Linked DNA regions of Homo sapiens. The protein of the gene in region 1 purifies or fractionates together with the protein of each later gene. This does not show direct contact. Each region holds a gene or a part of one and is shown on either strand. Other genes may lie near its edges.

Region 1 (5,413 bases):
TTGGAAGGCACCTCAAAGTATACTCTTTCAGAGTGGTCCAAACAGATCTGCAGCGGTAAGATCAAGCCTTGACAGGGAAATCTGAGATTTCAAATATAAGCCCGGTAGAAAGGCACAGGGCATAAGTGCTCCAAGTTGCAGGTGATGAATCATGATTGAGATGATTCTCATATGTGCACTCTGAGTAGCATCAAGAATGTGCAGTGTAGTCACATCATACAAGTATTTATCTTGCACAAATGTAACTGTTGTATATAGAACTTCCAGGGAGACAAAGAAGACAAGAGTGAAATTTAAACAGCATGGGCAATTCTGCCACCATTTCACCCAGTGACCACAGGCCCCTGCTCAGTCTTAGTCCCCACGTGCTTCTCAAAGTATGGGTATCTTGAGTGCACTTCTGCTATTTAAAGACATACCTGTTGTGTTACATGTTGTTCTCCAATGTGGTACTTTCCTATGGGACTTTAAGGATGATTTTGACTGAAGTTTCATCTTCCACTCGAACTCTAGAACCCATCCCACTGTAAAATGCAATTTCCTCTATTAACTAGATGATAGTTAATGGCTTGCCCCCATTGATCCTGGGAAGCCATCTGGTCTTACGATTCTGTTCTACTGACTCAGTTTTCATTTTTTATGTGGAACATTTAAGGAATAAAAACCAATGTGCCTCGAGGTGGATTTTGCCTCTTGTTTTACATTGTGATTCCAGAAACTGGTTTTAATTCAACCCAGTAGTGAGAAAAATAGCTCTGACTTACATAGCAAGATCTCCGCACTTCCCTACTCCACATACTCATTTCCTGCTTAAAACTGCCCAGATTAGCATTATCCTCAGCCACTCTCAGTGGGAACCTGGTATTTGGAACATGGCCCAACACCCCTTACATTCTAGGAAGAGTGGGGGCAGTTCCCAGGCTCTTTTCCTGACTTTGTGACCTGGGACACCTGAAAGGTTTGTTGTAGACAGGAAATAAGGCCATGCATGTGGCAGTAACTTGTAAAATAGAAAACATGAGGTACATTTTTAGTGCAGTTGCTCCTTGCAGAGTATGAAACAAAAATACGGAGTTGGGGGGCAGTGAGGGGAGCTTTCTCTTAAACATGCCAAATTCTCTCACCTATGGTTCTGCCTGGAACATTCCTCTCTGCTCTTCACCTTCAGGTCTGGTTTTAGTTGTCACTTCCCTACTCCCTCTGCTGGAACCAGGCACGCCTCCTTTATGCTTTCCTAGCCTCCTTTGCTCACCTCCATCCCAGTGCTGACAGCACCTTGTGGCAGTTCTCTGCTTGTCCGTAACCCACCTAGCCTCCAACACAAACCTTCACCTTAAGTCCCAAGCATGTGAGGACTGGGCCTGTATTGTTCTCTGCTGCAACCTACGAGATCACCATGAAGTTTCACCAATCAGCTCATTTTGAGCTCCCTGCCAGTTTACAATCCTCACACTTGTCGGTTTAGCCCCCAAATGGCTATGACACCATGCAGATTAAGCCCTCCGGACTCACACAATGTAGTAGCCATTTCAATTCACTCTTGAGCAACATTTCAATTCACTTGTGAGCACATTGGAGTACAACATACAGGACTAATATTTGGTCAGAAGGACTTTTGTCACTTACCTCATAACTCTACATGTGGTGACCTGGTTAGAAAATACTTATTGGGCTGAATCAATCACACTCAAAGCAGCCAAGAACAAATTCATATATTAGTTGCCAAAATAAGCCATATGGTATACATGGATATTAAAACAAAATTTCACCTTCCCTGCATGCCCTTAATGGCAGTTTAAAAAGAAGAAACTTAAATCTGAGAAGATTCTTGTATAATATAGATGGTCCTATCAACCCAGCATGGTATAGATTGGTATTTCCCAAAATTCTTCTGTTTGGGGTCCTTTTACAAACTCTCAGTACTCATATATTAAAAGCTCTGAAACTCCTACTTAACATTGCCCAAGCCAGTTTCTCCATGCTATTAACCAGCATATTATAACAATCCCCAGAACTACTTGCTCTGGGATATATTTATTTATGGAAAAGACCAACCAGATGAAATATCAGAAGACTGGAGTCCCTGTTCCAACACCATTAGCATACTGGACAAGTCAACCAAATATTTCTGTCCTACCACCTATCGCATTTCATCCTTCAAAAACACTTTGGGGTACTCATAGAGAAAAAAAGAACATCTTTCCAATATGAAAACATAATTTTCCAAGTGTTTCTGATTCATGATTAAATCTTTATTGGCATGACTTAATTAGCATTCCCCACTGTGTTAATTCAGGGCTGTCTTTATGCCTTGGGGAATCAGCTCAGTGGTGATTTGGAGAAGCTATGGGAAGGAGGACTTCCAACAGCTGAAGTTTAAAAAACTAAACAAAACAAAACCCAGCTTACATCCATCCGCGTATCCCAACACTAAGCACAGCCTTCTCACCCTTTCCAAACAACTCCCTATGCTGCCCCCTTGTGATTTCTTTCCCCTTTGAGGACCCCAGGGGAGAAAAGTCTTCTCCGCAGTCCTCCCAACTGAAGCCCTCGGCTAGCCATTACTTACTTAACACACTCAGGAGCCATTTTTCAAAGGTGGATCCCAACTGTGAGCACAGCTTCAAAGTCAGCAGAATAACTGGCTATGTCTGTGTGGGCCTCAAGGGAACTTGGAGGAGAATAAAGGGATCAGTTCAAACTTTCCTGCTTCACTTTCTTAGAAGTGTAGCTCACTCAAATCAATCTGCTGAAAGCTCTTCTAAAGTCTAAAGGGGTCCAGACTACACCACTGTGACATAAAAATTATTTTGAGCCAGTCATTTAAAAATAGGCTTTTTACTAAACTCCTTCATCTGTCTTAAAAGCAGTGTGCCCCAAAGGAACTCTGGAGTTTCACAACCAGGGAAGATCGACTCATTACCATAACTAAATAGACACTGGCATAAAACTACCACATCTCCTATCTAGTCTCTTAAGGGCTGATTTATCTCTCCTAAAGTCGTGGTTTCCAGCAAATGCTCTTCTCCTCTTCCGCCTTCCCCTACTGAGATGATGTATAGGCCCCCAAGTCTAACTGCCTCCTGTCACATTTTTCTGTAAACTCCCACAAATGTCTTTTTGTTGCTCATTTGTCTTTTACATTTAATTTGCAAGCCCCCAGTATATAACCTAGGAGGGTAGATGAAAAGTTTTCCCTACCCTAGAGTCCAAGAGAGAAAAAAATTATTGTTAAATATTTGATCAATGTTGATTACACATCTTATTATCCCAAGATAAATTTATAATAGAATAATACTTATAATCTATATGCAAAATGTCATAGTATATTGGGACCCTTTGTACGATAAAATGTATGCTACATTTATTTACCTGAGGCATAATTTTATAACATTAAATGATTATATGTGTTTATCCTTTCCATCTAACTCTTCCTCTGTCTGGAAGTCTTTTCACGGATATCTGCATGGCTCACTCCTTCACTTCATTCAGGTCTCTGCTCTCATGAGGTTTATCAGACATCCCAATTGCTGCACTAAAAAGAGCAGCCCATCCTCTAATGCTGTCCCCTTTACTGGGTTTTATTTTTCTTCAGAGAACTTATCTTCATTTGACACGTTTATCATCTGTCAGGCTCAACGAGAACCCCACAGCTCTGTAGAGCAGAAACTTTGTTCAATTCACTGTTGTATCCGTAGTACCGAGAACCTAATAGGTGCTCAATAAATATTTATTGAATGAGTCACTCTTTCCAAAACAGTAGAGCACTCTTCCCTGTTATCTTGTTTACAAAAACAAAACAAACCCTCTATCTCAGAAAGGGAGAACGTTTTTCTTTTTCTTCTACAAAATTTCATGAGCATTAGATTTGATTAAAAAAGAAAAAGGAAAAAGATGTTTCACCAAGAGCATTAGTGAAGCCAAGAAAGAAAAAGTCCCAAGCAAGCTGATTTAAGTATTTTATGTAACAAAGATTGTTTAGTGACTAAGTGTCCGGCTCTAAAAAAGAGTCCTGCCTATTCTCTCTTTCTCACTTCTCTCGGCAGGTCCCCTTCCTGAAGGGTAGCCCCATCTTCTATCGCACACTATCCGCTCTTCAAGACATAATTGGTTTTAGGTGCAGGCACCTCTTCTTTCCCAATCCAAAATGTTCTCTCTCTCGCTGAGCTCAGCATGTTTTCTAATTCTGTTCTTTGTATGTCTATGTGTTTCTTCTGTCTTATCTCCCCCAAAAGATTGTATGCTCCTGGATGGAAAGGACAATAGGTTATCCATACTGGCATTCAGTGCTGATTCAAAATCAGAAAGTGTAAACAAGGGGAGAACAATTGTTCAAAGCCCACCATAATTCATTTTATATTTATTTATTTATTTATTTTTGAGACAGGGTCTTGCCATCGCCAAGGCTGGAGTGCAGTGGTGCAATCACAGCTCACTGAAGCCTTGACCTCACAGGGTGAATGTGATCCTCCTACCTCAGTGTCTCAAGTAGCCGAGACCACAGGCGCCCGAAACCACACCAGATTAAGTTTTTTTATTTTTTGTAGACAAGGGGTTTCACCATGTTGTCCAAGCTGGTTTGGAACTCCTGGGCTCAAGTGACCCACTCAAGTGCGGTAAGCCACCATGCCCGGCCCCACCATAATTAAAAAGTGGTTTTTTTTTTTTTTAAAGTGGGGGTTACAGCATGTTAAAAAGTGACTTGGGCCGGGTGTGGTGGCTCACGCCTGTAATCCCAGCACTTTGTGAGGCCGAGGCGGGCGGATGATGAGGTCAAGAGATCCAGACCATCCTGGCCAACATGGTGAAACCTCGTTTCTACTAAAAATACAAAAATTAGCTGGGTATGGTGGTGCACGCCTGTAGTCCCACCTACTCAGGAGGCTGAGGCAGAAGAATCACTTGAACCCAGGAGGCGGAGGTTACAGTGAGCCAAGATCCTGCAACTGCACTCCAGCCTAGGGCAACAGAGCAAGACAGTGTCTCAAAAAAAAAAGTGACTTGAAGGTGTTTCTCTGCCAAGTCATCCCTGCCCCAGGGATATAAGGTTTAAAGTTAAAGTAGCAAGGTGTCTCCACCTAACTCCAACTACCCAAGAGTCTCAAAACCTTCCCCTTCCTGCTCAGTGTTCTTTTATTTCCTTTTCAAGAAATGTGAACTGCTATAGCCAGAAACATGTTCCTTCAGCAGTGTTTGCAGATGGATCTCATGAAAGTTCAGAAAAGGGTGGTTCACTTCAAGCGGGAGACAGTGGAGTTCCTCCACTATAAGGCGAAGTTTGCAAAGTCCCACTAGTTTGCTCTGAGAACATGAGACCCTTAACCTCTGGGTCATGTGTTTGAGGTCCATTTTGGTGCAGGCATCACCTGATGCTAAAAAAGGATCATTGTTTAGTGTGGGGTTCTTAACTTGG
Region 2 (3,403 bases), on another chromosome or scaffold:
AGATTATACATTTTAAATTTGTAAAATATGAGTCAGATTTCATTGAAATTGAATGAGCTAGACCTCGATCAGAATAAAGGAAATAATCATTAGCATTCATTCTGTTTATCTATATGAAATAAAATATATATGCTAAAATTCATTTTCTAAGTATTTTTCACTTTCTGATTATAACCTACATTCAGAAATGTGTTCCTTATCCTGATCCAGTACAGCTATATAACCGAATCTAAAGTTTCACAAAACAGTTCTTGCCCTTAACATGAGATATTTTCCTTTTTGTAGTTCACAGTGATGATGCTGAGTACAGATTGCAAGACCCCCACAACCTGCAGTTTTTAAAACAGTGCTCAGAGTTAAACTGGCTTTATGACTCTTTAATATAAAGCATCTTCTTAGAGAAATTATTTAAGGGGAAAAGTGGGAATTTACTTAAAACATATACCATTAAAAAGTGTAGGAAAATAAAATTTGTAAAATATTGTCTTATATACTTTTTATCTTTCAGTATGCATCATGCTAATTTATTACAGATCTTTGCCCAAGAACCTACCAGCAATGAAACTGGTATGCTCACCATTGGGCCTTTGTTATTAACCTTTTGTCAAATTTTCTTTTACATTCAACAAATTTCAAAATCAAATTGTACAATTTGGGAGTGATCTAGGTTGTCTGGTGAGATCTAGTATGCAGTGTGTGCTTTGAGTGCTCAGAAATTTTCCAGTCTTCTGGAGTCCTCCTAATCAGGCAGCAGCTCTTAAACTGAATTCCATAACTATAAAAATGGAATGAAGAAAGTGATTAAAGAGATTTTGCTGGAAGGAATTTACATGAGAAAACTTGACTTAAATTCCTAGTTGCTTCTGTAGGGGCTTAATAAAAGGACAGAGATGAGGATGTATGCTGGGTCCTGAGTTCAGGGTAGGACTTTGGTACTTTCAATTTGATATCTCAGAGTTTGGGCAAGTAATCATGACAAATCCAGAAGCAAATATGACCCCAGGCACATGTCCTTTTCTGTTATGCCTGCCTTTCATTAGTAATGAGAATTTTTATAAGACCCCCCTCCTTTATCTAAATAATAAATATGACAGTCTTTTGCCCAAAATTTGTCCCACAGAATAAGAAAACTATTTTGATTGAAAGGCATCTTCCCATCCAAATCACCTTAAACAAGGTCTTCATGGCCAAGCATACTTTTCACTGGAACAAAGGCTGTGAGTTCTCCTCTTTCCTTCCACAGGACAAGGAGGAGGACTTTAAGACAGTGATTTTGGAGGGATTGGAGATGGCCAAGCATCAGGTGAGGGTGGCTGTTTCATGCTTATGATATGGCAGCAAAAGTTGCCAAATATTGAGACACAAACCCAGGTCTGAATGTCAACAAGTACAAGGGAGGTAAACAGGAAGGAAGTCTTTTTTCAAGTGTGGACTGGTGAAGTCAAAGGAGAAATCATTTGTATGGAAACATTTGACTTTATTTAATATTGAGACAATACATATAGTTCTGATTAAGAGCATCAGAAACTCTGAATCAAGTGTATTCTTCTTGGTCAAGAGCTTAATAAAAGTCCCTCTCTTAAAGGCTCATCTTGATAGGAATAGAAACAAAAGGTTACCCCATAGTTCTCTTACATTTGGAAGTTAGCTATATAGAGGGTACAAGGATATTCATTTTCCTTCAGGACAAAGTCATCTCTGTACGCCCTTTATTGTTGAATTGCAGTTTGATTTAGGGGATTAGAGGTGGTATGGTACCAGTAATTGAGTAATGGTGGAAATGTGAAAGTCAGTCACAGGACTCTCATTGGTGCCAGTGTCATAGTTAAGAAAGAAAGAAAGAAAGTTTTATATATCCTGTAATCTAGACTGGAAGCTAAATAATTGCTAGGAAGCAAACTTAAGTGATAGCTGTTAAGTTTTTTGGTTTGTTTTTGACCAGAGATGATGAAGTAGGTGATCTTTTCTTGGTTTGCTCCTAGACTCTTCCATTTTAACTTATATTTTTAGTTTGGTGCAAAAGTAATTGCTGTTTGGGACCATGAATTTTAAGTCATTATAACTAGGTTCACACAAATCTTTATTAATTAAAATAGGAACCATTACAATCAACACATTTTTGCCAATGAGAAATAAGTTTGTTTACTCCTGTAGCATAAAAATCCATGCTTCCAAATTTGACGAACTCTTGGAAAGCATTTTCTGTGTCCTGCTAGTTGTGGAAGCAATTTCCCTGCAAAACGTTGCTGAGATGCCTAAAGAAGTGGTAGTTTGTTGGCAAGAGGTCAGGTGAATATGGCAGATGAGGCAAAACTTCATAGCCCAATTAGTTCAATTTTCGAAGCGTTGGTTGTGCAACGTGCGGCCCAGTGTTGTCGTGAAAAGAATTGGGCCCTTTCTGGTGGCCAATGCCGGCTGCAGGCATTGCAGTTTTTGGTGCATCTCATTGATTTGCTGAGCATACTTATCAGATGTAATGGTTTCACCTGGATTCAGAAAGCTGTAGTGGATCAGACTGGCAGCAAACCACCAAACAATGACCATGACCATTTTTTGGAGCAAGTTTGGCTTTGGGAAGTGCTTTGGAGCTTCTTTCAGTCCAGCCACTGAGCTGGTCATCGCCAGTTGTCGTATAAAATCCACCTTTTGGCACACATCACAATCCGATAGAGAAATGATTCATTATTGTTGCATAGAATAGAGAAAATGACACTTCAAAACAACGAATTTTTTTATTTTTCACTCAGCTCATGAGGCACCCATTTATTGAGCTTTTTCACCTTTTCAATTTGCTTCAAATGCCGAACGACCATAAAATGGTCAACATTGAGTTCTTGGGCAGCTCTCTTATAGTTGTAAGAGGATCAGCTTCGATGATGTTCTCAATTGGTCATTATCAATTTCCGATGACTGGCCACTGCACTCCTCATCTTCAAGGCTCTAGTCTCCTTTGCAAAACTTCTTGAGCCATCACGGCACTGTATGTTCATTAGCAGTTCCTGGGCCAAATGCATTGTTGATGTTGTGTGTTGTCTCTGCTGCTTTATAACCTATTTTGAACTCAGAAAATCGCTAAATTTGATTTTTGTCTAACATCATTTCCATAGTCTAAAATAAATATAAACAGCAATAAGTCATTAGCAAAAAAAAAGTGAGAAATATGCTTAAAATGATGTATAACATAACCACATTTATTTAAGAATGTACTCCAATATAAAACGGCAAATTTCAACAATGCAAAAACCGCAATTACGTTTGCACCAACCTAATATTTTCCTTTTTCAGGATTTTACTTTAAAATAAGCAATAAGCTTGAGAGCACATAGAAGAAAATAAGCTGGATTTTGCATCTGCTTGACCCACTAGGAAACTAGTGATATTAAATTATTAGGTAAACAATGAA

What was found. The genes of interacting proteins can lie anywhere in the genome.
Region 2: the proteins of PGM1 (region 1) and PGM3 fractionate together in Homo sapiens (co-fractionation; one large-scale study listed by BioGRID). This does not show direct contact.

What each region holds. Positions count from the first base shown.
Region 1 is NC_000001.11:63,598,756-63,604,168, reverse strand, and holds part of PGM1 (phosphoglucomutase-1), read right to left. Parts: intron 1-5,413. UniProt on the Homo sapiens protein: Catalyzes the reversible isomerization of alpha-D-glucose 1-phosphate to alpha-D-glucose 6-phosphate. The mechanism proceeds via the intermediate compound alpha-D-glucose 1,6-bisphosphate.
Region 2 is NC_000006.12:83,163,417-83,166,819, forward strand, and holds the end of PGM3 (phosphoacetylglucosamine mutase), read right to left. Parts: 3' UTR 3,051-3,403; coding exon of another isoform or gene 2,971-3,050; 3' UTR 1,457-2,970; downstream 1-1,456. Other genes in the region: protein DOP1A, read left to right, coding at 1,244-1,303. UniProt on the Homo sapiens protein: Catalyzes the conversion of GlcNAc-6-P into GlcNAc-1-P during the synthesis of uridine diphosphate/UDP-GlcNAc, a sugar nucleotide critical to multiple glycosylation pathways including protein N- and O-glycosylation.